Regions from separate parts of the Homo sapiens genome. Here region 1 is linked to region 2. A link means that fine-mapping ties the variant in region 2 to the expression of a gene that starts in the linked region. Tissue or cell type: lymphoblastoid cells. Region 2 holds a variant in brackets; the other region holds the start of a gene. All regions are shown on one strand. Distances are from middle to middle.

Region 1 (5,121 bases), 250 kb before region 2:
GCCAGGCACTGCCCTCCTGGGCAGGAGCGAAGCAGGGGGGATGTCCGCCCCCCTCCTGATCCACTTCACTCCTCGGAGCCCTGGCAGCGAAGCGGAGGCGGAGACAGGTGGTGTCAGGGCGTCCTCTCGCCAGGCCGCAGGCCCCGCGGGGCAACAGGACACTGGCCCCTGGCAGGCGGGCGCGGGGCCCTCGGGCTCGATGGGGAGAGGCCGGGGCCGGCGGCGGCGGATGGACGCTGGCTCGGGAGACAGAGCCCGCCGCCCCCGGAAACTGGACCCGCTCCGCCTGGGCGCCGCGGGGAGCGTGTGGGACGCGGTGGACGGGGCCGCCGCCCTGGACGCCCACGCGCGCGGCCTCCCCACAGGACCCCCACTCGCCCAGGAGCCCGCACTCCCGGCGCTGCCCGCTCCCCGCGCCCTGCAGCCTGGGTCTCAGACGGAAGGCTCTGGGGCCAAGGGTGGCTGGAGCAGGGAGGCCTCGGGGGTCCCTGCCCCCGGAGGAGGCTGGCCCTGGGTCAGCAGGGAGGTCCCGGGCACCCGGAGCTTTGGCCCAGCCCCAGACTCCACGCGCCCCTGGCTAGAGAGTCCGCCTCAAGGTCGCCCACTCTCGTCCCAAGGGCCGGGTGCCACAGGGGCCTACGATGCCGGCGAGGCCGGGGCTGACAGCTCCCGAGATAACAGTCCTGCCGCTGACCTGGGGCCCACCCGGCCCCCGGAGCAAGCAAAGCCGGCTGCAGCCGGCCACAGCCGCGCGCCCTCCCGGAGCCGTGAGCCTCGCCCGCGCTCCGCCTCCCCGCCCGCAGCTCCCGGCCCGGGGTTCCCACCTGAAGCCCTGACTCTCCCCTCTCCTTCAGACTTTTTGCCCCTGGAGGTTACCCAGGATCCTTCCGTGGGCGAAAATCTCAGAGCGGCGCCAGCCCCAAGTTCAGCCTCAGCCCAAGTCTTAACTTCAGCTCCAGCCTCAGTCCTAGCCCCAGCCCTGGCTTCATCCCCCAGCTCAGCACCAACCTCAGCCACCACCTCAACCTCATCCCCCACCTCAGCCCCAGCCCCAGCTCCAACCTCAGCTCCAACTTCAACCCCAGCCCCAGCCCCAAGTCCAGCTGCAGCCGCAACTCCAGCCCCAGCCCCAGTCCCAGTCCCAACCCTCACACCCCCATCCCCAGCCCTAACCCCAGTCCCAACCCCAGCCCTAAGCCCAGCTCCAACTCCAGCCCTAACCCCAGCCGCATCCCCAGCCCTAACCCCAGTCCCAACCCCAGCCCTAAGCCCAGCTCCAACTCCAGCCCCAACCCCAGCCGCATCCCCTGCCCCAGCCCCCACCTCAGCCCCAACCCCAACCCCAGCCGCATCCCCTGCCCCAGCTGACGGGTCAAAGCCTCAGGAGAGTGTGGCTCTCCCCAGGCGCTACCAGGAGGGGCAGGTCTCAGCCAGCTGGGGAAACCTTATTGCCATGGTTCTTAGAAGCCACCCCTTCCCCAGGCAAGACAGGCCCCAAGGGAGTGTCCCGAGGGCGGTTCCCGGGAGCCCCGTGGGTCCCAGCACTTCCACACACTCTGAGGACAGACACGGCCCCTCTTCTTCAGTGGGGACAGTCATAGGGACAGGTACAGGGGGCCTGGTTGAGGCTGGAGGTCAGCCACAGCCAAGAAGCTCCGAGACCAACGGATCGCCCAGCCCAGACCCTCCCCCAGGCCTAAGAGGAGAGGGAACCAGGGAGAAAAGTCTAGACCCGCTGCCCCAAGCCGCGATGCCCAGGGGCCCCGCACAGCCCCCCGCGCAGAGGCCGCCTGGCCCCGCGGCCTCCTCCTCTGCGAGGCGCTCACAGCCGGTACCCCAGCTACGGAAACGCAGCAGGTGCGAAATCGCCCCGAGCTCGGAGCAGGAGGTCAGGCCGGCCGCCTCGGGGGACCCTCAAGGGGAGGCGCCGGGGGAGGGGGGCAGCCCTGCCGGCCGCAGCGGGGCGCTCACGGAAAAGCAGGAGGAGGCCCGGAAGCTCATGGTGTTTCTGCAGAGGCCCGGGGGTTGGGGGGTGGTGGAGGGGCCCCGGAAGCCCAGCTCCCGGGCCCTGGAGCCCGCCACGGCGGCAGCCCTGCGGCGGCGGCTGGACCTGGGCAGTTGCCTGGACGTGCTGGCCTTTGCCCAGCAGCACGGAGAGCCCGGCCTGGCGCAGGAGACCTACGCGCTGATGAGCGACAACCTGCTGCGAGTGCTGGGAGACCCGTGCCTCTACCGCCGGCTGAGCGCGGCCGACCGCGAGCGCATCCTCAGCCTGCGGACCGGCCGGGGCCGGGCGGTGCTGGGCGTCCTCGTACTGCCCAGCCTCTACCAGGGGGGCCGCTCAGGGCTCCCCAGGGGCCCTCGTGGCGAGGAGCCTCCTGCGGCGGCCCCTGTGTCCCTGCCTCTACCTGCGCACCTGCATGTGTTCAACCCCCGGGAGAACACCTGGCGGCCCCTGACCCAGGTGCCCGAGGAGGCCCCGCTTCGGGGCTGCGGTCTCTGCACCATGCACAACTACCTGTTTCTGGCGGGGGGCATCCGTGGCTCCGGTGCCAAGGCCGTCTGCTCCAACGAGGTCTTCTGCTACAACCCTCTGACCAACATCTGGAGCCAGGTTCGGCCCATGCAGCAGGCCCGAGCCCAGCTCAAGCTGGTGGCCCTGGACGGGCTGCTCTATGCCATCGGTGGCGAATGCCTGTACAGCATGGAGTGCTACGACCCGCGAACAGACGCCTGGACCCCACGCGCGCCACTCCCCGCAGGCACCTTCCCTGTGGCCCACGAGGCTGTGGCCTGCCGTGGGGACATCTACGTCACCGGGGGTCACCTCTTCTACCGCCTGCTCAGGTACAGCCCCGTGAAGGATGCTTGGGACGAGTGCCCATACAGTGCCAGCCACCGGCGTTCCAGCGACATCGTGGCACTGGGGGGCTTCCTGTACCGCTTCGACCTGCTGCGGGGCGTGGGCGCCGCCGTGATGCGCTACAACACAGTGACCGGCTCCTGGAGCAGGGCTGCCTCCCTGCCCCTGCCCGCCCCCGCCCCACTGCACTGCACCACCCTGGGCAACACCATTTACTGCCTCAACCCCCAGGTCACTGCCACCTTCACGGTCTCTGGGGGGACTGCCCAGTTCCAGGCCAAGGAGCTGCAGCCCTTCCCCTTGGGGAGCACCGGGGTCCTCAGTCCATTCATCCTGACTCTGCCCCCTGAGGACCGGCTGCAGACCTCACTCTGAGTGGCAGGCAGAGAACCAAAGCTGCTTCGCTGCTCTCCAGGGAGACCCTCCTGGGATGGGCCTGAGAGGCCGGGGCTCAGGGAAGGGGCTGGGATCGGAACTTCCTGCTCTTGTTTCTGGACAACTTTCCCCTTCTGCTTTAAAGGTTGTCGATTATTTTGAAGCCCAGACTCCCTCAGCCTCTTTCTGCCCCTCACTCCACACCCAGACTGTTTCCTGACTCAATTCCGTACCTACTTACAGACCCTCTCAGCTTGCTGACACCCCCCTGTCTGTGGGACTCCCTATTCCCTAGAGCCAGGGACTGATGCGTCTCCACAGACAAGGACTTGGCTCGCTGGAGCTCTGCTGAGCCGAGAGAGGAGGGGGTAGAAAACATTCACACTTCCTATGCTCTGTCAGCAGGACAGGGAGCAAAAACGTCCCCAGGCAACGCCCTCGCCTCTGGGACTTTCTGCCTGTCCTAAGGCCTCCCCAGGTACCAACCCCGTAGCTATCTGGGTCTGTTTGGCACTGTGGATTCTCAAGGGCCTAGAACCCTTGCCTCTGAAACTGGTCCGCTGGTGCAGCCCTGCTGTCTGCAGCTCCTGCCCATACCCCCAGCCCACACCAGGCCAGGCCCACTCCGGGCTCACCACCCTCTGCAGCCTTGTGGGGCTCTCCCAGCCCCTCCAGAAGCCCACCCCACTTCTCGCCAACCCCCGATCTCTAAATGAGGCCTGAGCGTCACCCTAGTTCTGCCCCTTTTTAGCTGTGTAGACTTGGACGAGACATTTGACTTCCCTTTCTCCTTGTCTATAAAATGTGGACAGTGGACGTCTGTCACCCAAGAGAGTTGTGGGAGACAAGATCACAGCTATGAGCACCTCGCACGGTGTCCAGGATGCACAGCACAATCCATGATGCGTTTTCTCCCCTTACGCACTTTGAAACCCATGCTAGAAAAGTGAATACATCTGACTGTGCTCCACTCCAACCTCCAGCCTGGATGTCCCTGTCTGGGCCCTTTTTCTGTTTTTTATTCTATGTTCAGCACCACTGGCACCAAATACATTTTAATTCACCGAAAGCACCTGCAGCTTGCACTTGTTGTGTTTTGTTCACAAGGTTTGATATGCAGCTGGGTGGATCATGGCACAGGAGAGAAGAGGTCCTCGGGCTGTGCTTAAAAATAAGTTTATTAAGAAACAAGTACAGTGCATACAGCTATTCATGTGGGTGCCAGCTCCATCCCCCAGTGACCTCTTCATACGGGCAGAGGGTGGCATGGCAGCTGTGGTGGGCCAGTGGGGCCTACAGCCTTTGCTTGGTCTCATGCAGCAGCTCTTGCCAGTTCTTCTCCATCTCCTCCTTGCAGTTGACGAAGGCATCCTCCAGCCGACGCATGGACTCGGCCAGCGTAGGGTTGGTGCGCATCACCACCATGTCATAGGCCATCCAGGTCGCCTGCACTGCAACAAGCAGACAGGACTGGTCAGGCCACAGGGAGGGGCTGCAGCTCTGGGGTGCCCCAGAAGGGTCAGATGCCTCCAGCTGGGCTCAGCATCTGGAGGCCCAGATCCTGCTGAGGCACCCAATTACTCTAGGGAGAGACAGCTGGTAGGCTACTTGTTACAGGCTCATAAAAACTCCCTACAAACATCCATAGTGACGCTTCCTAGTCTCATGCAAGGCATAACTTCTGGATACACCAGACATGATGTAAAAAACTAGAGGCTGGTCTGATACGAAATGTGAGGAGAATTAGAGCAAACCGCAGCTCCTTACCTACAAGCAGTTCACAGCCAATGGCTGCAGGTGACCCCTAAGGAGTCATCCACCCAAGCTCACACACTCAGGTAGAGTTGATTGTTTCCAGTCCTGCAAGACCCAAACCTCATGTC
Region 2 (5,187 bases):
AATCAAATCTATAAGCTTTAAGATTTTACGTTTCTAGTAAGTATAATATTAGCTTATTTGACTAGAACTCAAGCAGAATAGGAATTTATGCTTGTTTTATATTCAATAATGATAATTTTGAAGATATAGTTGTTTTATTACACCAAAAATACTATATTAATCTTATTTAACTAAGTTTTATCCAAATCATGTTAACTTAAGAAACATTTGATCAGTTCCTATATTTCTAGGAGTTTGGTGAATATTTATTTATAAATGCTTATTTTTTTCCAAGCCAAGTTAGAATAGAGCACTTTTAGAGGATTTCATAAATGAATTTTGCAATGCTCTCTGGAGTTAAGAAAATATCACATATACATAACATACATTAATAGATACACAAACACAAATAGAGATTTCATAGCTTTCATCCTGAAATTTCAGCCATGAATCAGGCATAAATATTCTGATGGTTAATTTCAGACATCTACTTGATCGGATTGAGAGACACGCATAGCTGGTCAAACACGATTTCAGCCATGAATCAGGCATAAATATTCTGATGGTTAATTTTAGACATCTACTTGACTGGATTAAGAGACACACATAGCTGGTCAAACATGATTTCTGACATGAATCAGGCATAAATATTCTGACGGTTAATTTTAGACATCTACTTGACTGGATTAAGAGACACACATAGCTGGTCAAACATGATTTCAGCCATGAATCAGCCATAAATATTCTGACGGTTAATTTTAGACATCTACTTGATCGGATTGAGAGACACACATAGCTGGTCAAACACGATTTCAGCCATGAATCAGGCATAAATATTCTGATGGTTAATTTTAGACATCTACTTGAGTGGATTGAGAGACACACATAGCTGGTCAAACACAATTTCAGCCATGAATCAGGCATAAATATTCTGATGGTTAATTTTAGACATCTACTTGAGTGGATTGAGAGACACACATAGCTGGTCAAACAATTTCAGCCATGAATCAGGCATAAATATTCTGACGGTTAATTTTAGACATCTACTTGAGTGGATTGAGAGACACACATAGCTGGTCAAACACGATTTCAGCCATGAATCAGGCATAAATATTCTGACGGTTAATTTTAGACATCAACTTGACTGGATTAAGGGACACACATAGCTGGTCAAACACGATTTCAGCCATGAATCAGGCATAAATATTCTGACGGTTAATCGTAGACGTCTACTTGACTGGATTGAGAGACACACATAGCTGGTCAAACACGATTTCAGCCATGAATCAGGCATAAATATTCTGATGGTTAATCGTAGACATCTACTTAACTGGATTGAGAGACACACATAGCTGGTCAAACACGATTTCAGCCATGAATCAGGCATAAATATTCTGATGGTTAATCGTAGACATCTACTTGACTGGATTGAGAGACACACATAGCTGGTCAAACACGATTTCAGCCATGAATCAGGCATAAATATTCTGATGGTTAATCGTAGACATCTACTTGACTGGATTGAGAGACACACATAGCTGGTCAAACACGATTTCAGCCATGAATCAGGCATAAATATTCTGATGGTTAATCGTAGACATCTACTTGACTGGATTGAGAGACACACATAGCTGGTCAAACACGATTTCAGCCATGAATCAGGCATAAATATTCTGATGGTTAATCGTAGACGTCTACTTGACTGGATTGAGAGACACACACAGCTGGTCAAACACGATTTCTGGGCATATCTATGAGGGTGTTTCTGGAAGACACTGAGATAACCATGACCCAATGTGGATGGGCACTGATATGGTTTGGCTGTGTCCCCACCCAGATCTCATCTTGAATTGTAGTTCCTGTAATACCTACATGTCGTGGGAGGGACCCAATGGGAGGTGACTGAATCATGGTGGTGGTTACCGCCATGCTGTTCTCATGACAGTGAGTGAGTTCTCATGATCTGATGGTTT[T/C]ATAAGGGGCTTTTCCCCTTTGGGTCAGCACTTCTTGTTGCTGCCATGTGAAGAGGGACAGCTTTGCTTCCCCTTCTGCCATGATTGTGAGGCCCCTGCAGCCATGTGGAACTGTCAGCCCATTAAACCCCTTTGTTCTTTATAAATTGCTCAGACTCAGGTATTTCTTCATAGCTGTATAAAAATGGATGAATACAGGCAGCATCCAATTGGTTGAGAGCCCAGATAGAATAACAAGGAAGAGGAAAGGTGAATTATCTCCTTCTGAAATGGAAACATCCTTCTTCTCCTGCCCTTGACATCAGAACTTCAGGGTCTCAGACCTTTGGCCTCACAATCAGAGTTACACCATTGGCTTCCCCGATTCTGAGTCCTTTGTATCTGGAGTGAGCCATGCTACCAGCTTTCCTGGTTCTCCAACTTGGAGACAGGCTATTGTGGAACTTCTCAGCCTCCATAATTATGTGAACCAGTTCCCCTAATGAATCTTCTGTCATCTGTCTACATATATCCTATTGATTCTGCCTTTCTGGAGACCCCTGACTAATGTGATTACAATAACTACACAATTCACTAGTTTATATAGAAGACTTGGTTTTTGTCTTTGCCCCATTTTATATTTGTATTATAACTATGTATCTGGAAAATGGAACAAGTTTTTTCTTCTTCATATGAGGGCTAAGGCTTTTTTCTCACCAATATTTTTGGAGATTTTAAAGATTTTCTTTTTTTTTGACATAGAATCTTATGGAGGCTGAGAAATAATTTTTTTTCTATTTTATTCTTCAGCCCCAGGTGTTTGCTTTTGCAGATTCTTGAGCACATTGAGAGCCTCCAAGGCATGGAGTGGGGTGCCTGAAGTTTCAGTGATTATAGGGAGTTGAGAGACTCAACTGGGAAAGGAAAGGTCTAAAAGGAGGCAATTTGGAAGATAAAAATTTTCTCAAAGGAGCCATTAAAGTTGTAAATAATTCTTAGTAAAGTCATGCAAACAGGAAAAGAAGTAGAATTAGTTCCATATTGGTGGAACACATAGTCAGCAGAGGTTTGAGAAGGGAGAATTTAGTGAAGTGAGAAGTTCCCATGAAAGCAGCAAGATCAAGATCACAGACACCTTGAAACAAAAAGCCAGGAATAACTTCCAACCCAAGAGGAGAACAGAGAGGCCTCAAAACCAAAGGTAGGATAAGAAACTTGTAGCCCAAGAGTTATCTTCCAGACAAAGAAGCCTGAGATTCCAACGCAGCTTCAGAGAGTGCTCACTCAAAATGTTACTGAAACTGTAGGCTTTTTAATGAGTTAGCCATGCCTGCAAAAGGCATTCCCTAAGGTGGCACAGAAGACGGAGCCCCCATATCCAAAGATAGCCAAGGAGAAAGAAAGACCCCTGTTGCCAGAGCCAGTGGGCAAAGGCAACAGAAAAGGAGACAAGGGTCCTAATGGGATGAGATCCTTTCGGATTTAGGCTTTTATACAAACTCCTGAGAACTGGCAGGTTGACAGCCATAAATGGGGTACCAAACTTTCTACTCATTGGATTACAAGTTCTCAGGCATCCAGAATGATGAACAAAATGACAATTTCTAGGGCTTCTGTGGGAGAGTATGGAAAGGTCTTTTTGAACCTTTTAATGCTGTGAACGGAAGAATGATGAGGTTCATAAATTTGGAAAGGAGACATTTCTTCATTTTTATGCTTATTTTTATTTTTTTTGAGACAGAGTTTCACTCTTGTTGCCCAGGCTGGAGTGCAATGGCGTGATCTTGGTTCACTGCAACCTCCACCTCCTGGGTTCAAGCGATTCTCCTGCCTCAGCCTCCTGATTAGCTGGGATTACAGATGCCCACCACCACACCTGGCTAATTTTTTGCAGTTTTGGTAGAGACAGGATTTCATCATGTTGGCCAGGCTGGTCTGAAACTCCTGACCTCAGGTGATCCACCCACCTCGGCCTCCCAAAGTGCTGGGATTACAGGCATGAGCCACCCACCCAGTGAGAGATTTATTTTCTATAAAGGGTTGTAGCCTGCAGGGTTGTCCTTCTGACAGGCTGGGAAGCATAGCCTCCAGCCAGAAGCCAGAAACAGATGCTTCAAGGAGGAGGTAAAGGAAATAGCAACTTATGCTGAGTGGAATGGCCAAATAGATTTATTTAATAAGCTCTAGGAGGAGTCATGAATATTTATGGAAGGAGAAATGCATGCACGCACAATTGAGTTTCTTGCTTCTTCATGGGTCCCATGTACAAAAAATGGCAGTGTTAGCATGATCCCAGGGTGGAGTTTTCAGCCCTCTGACATTAAAAGGTGAAGCAGAGGACATGAAAACTCGCTCTGTGCATCCTCTGTACGCTGGCCAGAACCTCTCCATCGTGGGTGGTCTCTTATCAGGCAAGAAAGGAGAGGTTGATATCAGTGGTGGAGGCTTTGAAAGGGCTGGTTTCTGTTAAATCCTTAGGGAAGAAAGCCTCATCATGGTTAGCAAAGGAGGGGGTATAACGATGTGTATCTTAACCCCATCATCCCATCCTAGCAAAGCTGAGAACTCAGTTTTGAAAGTTACTCTGGGGTCCCCTCAGCCAAGAGTGGGTCTGTTCAGTCAGTTGGGAGCTTAGAATTTAATTTTCATTTATCAATGCTAATGGGAAAGAGTACGCTGTCTTCATGGCAGCTGAATTTGCAAGAAACTCCTTGGATGGGGTTAATGGCAGCTGTATTTTTCTGGGAGCTGTGCTTTAATTGGATAAAGTAAGTTCTGGTAAGATTTCTTCATCTTCAGTATCTCAAATGTTTTCATTTAAATAATCTTTATAACAACTTTTGATGTCTGAGTGGATTCCCACACAGTCATCTATTGTAAGACTTTCTGATTCCTTTTTTTTCCTTTGGTCATTATGAATAGGGCTTCTGTAAATAACTGCATGGTAGCTTTTGATGGGAAATAACATCAAAGTAGTTGTCAAAATACCTAGGAATGTTATTTTTGGATTGTAAGGTGAGACTTGTTTAGCTTTGGAAAAAAATGACCAACTTGTAATAGGGGAGGAAAAATAATTTTCTGTTTTTGGAATTCTTAGATGGAACGCTCTGTAAAAACTGACAGATTAAAATGAGAAAAAGAGAAAAGTTTAAAAACATGTATATCTTATGGTTACATGGGAGATACTCAGGGAAAAATGAGTAAATCTCCAACAGGTGGCTTTCAATTCAAGCATAAATACTATCTTCAACTTAAA

Alleles and levels. Alleles are on the strand shown, and positions count from the first base shown. SD is a standard deviation of normalised expression in the study named.
As copies of C replace T in region 2, the expression in lymphoblastoid cells of the gene that starts at base 2,234 in region 1 goes up (large effect, 0.90 SD a copy in GEUVADIS).

The links. PIP is the estimated chance that this variant, and not a neighbour inherited with it, causes the effect.
Region 1: KLHDC7B-DT starts here. The variant in region 2 is fine-mapped to the expression of KLHDC7B-DT in lymphoblastoid cells (GEUVADIS, PIP 0.95).

Annotation. Positions count from the first base shown.
Region 1 is chr22:50,546,714-50,551,834 of GRCh38, forward strand. It overlaps KLHDC7B-DT (KLHDC7B divergent transcript), which reads right to left and starts at 2,234. Exons shown (of 4, transcript NR_199716.1): 1 at 2,183-2,234. It overlaps KLHDC7B (kelch domain containing 7B), which reads left to right. Exons shown (of 1, transcript NM_138433.5): 1 at 1-4,310. The coding sequence ends at 3,238. It overlaps SYCE3 (synaptonemal complex central element protein 3), which reads right to left. Exons shown (of 3, transcript NM_001123225.3): 3 at 4,399-4,689. The coding sequence ends at 4,532. RefSeq lists silencers at 1,712-2,141, 2,222-2,381.
Region 2 is chr22:50,799,212-50,804,398 of GRCh38, forward strand. It overlaps the pseudogene RPL23AP82. Among named protein-coding and RNA genes, the nearest start is that of RABL2B, 18 kb to the left of the region's middle. The variant T/C (reference allele first, on the strand shown) is at 1,953.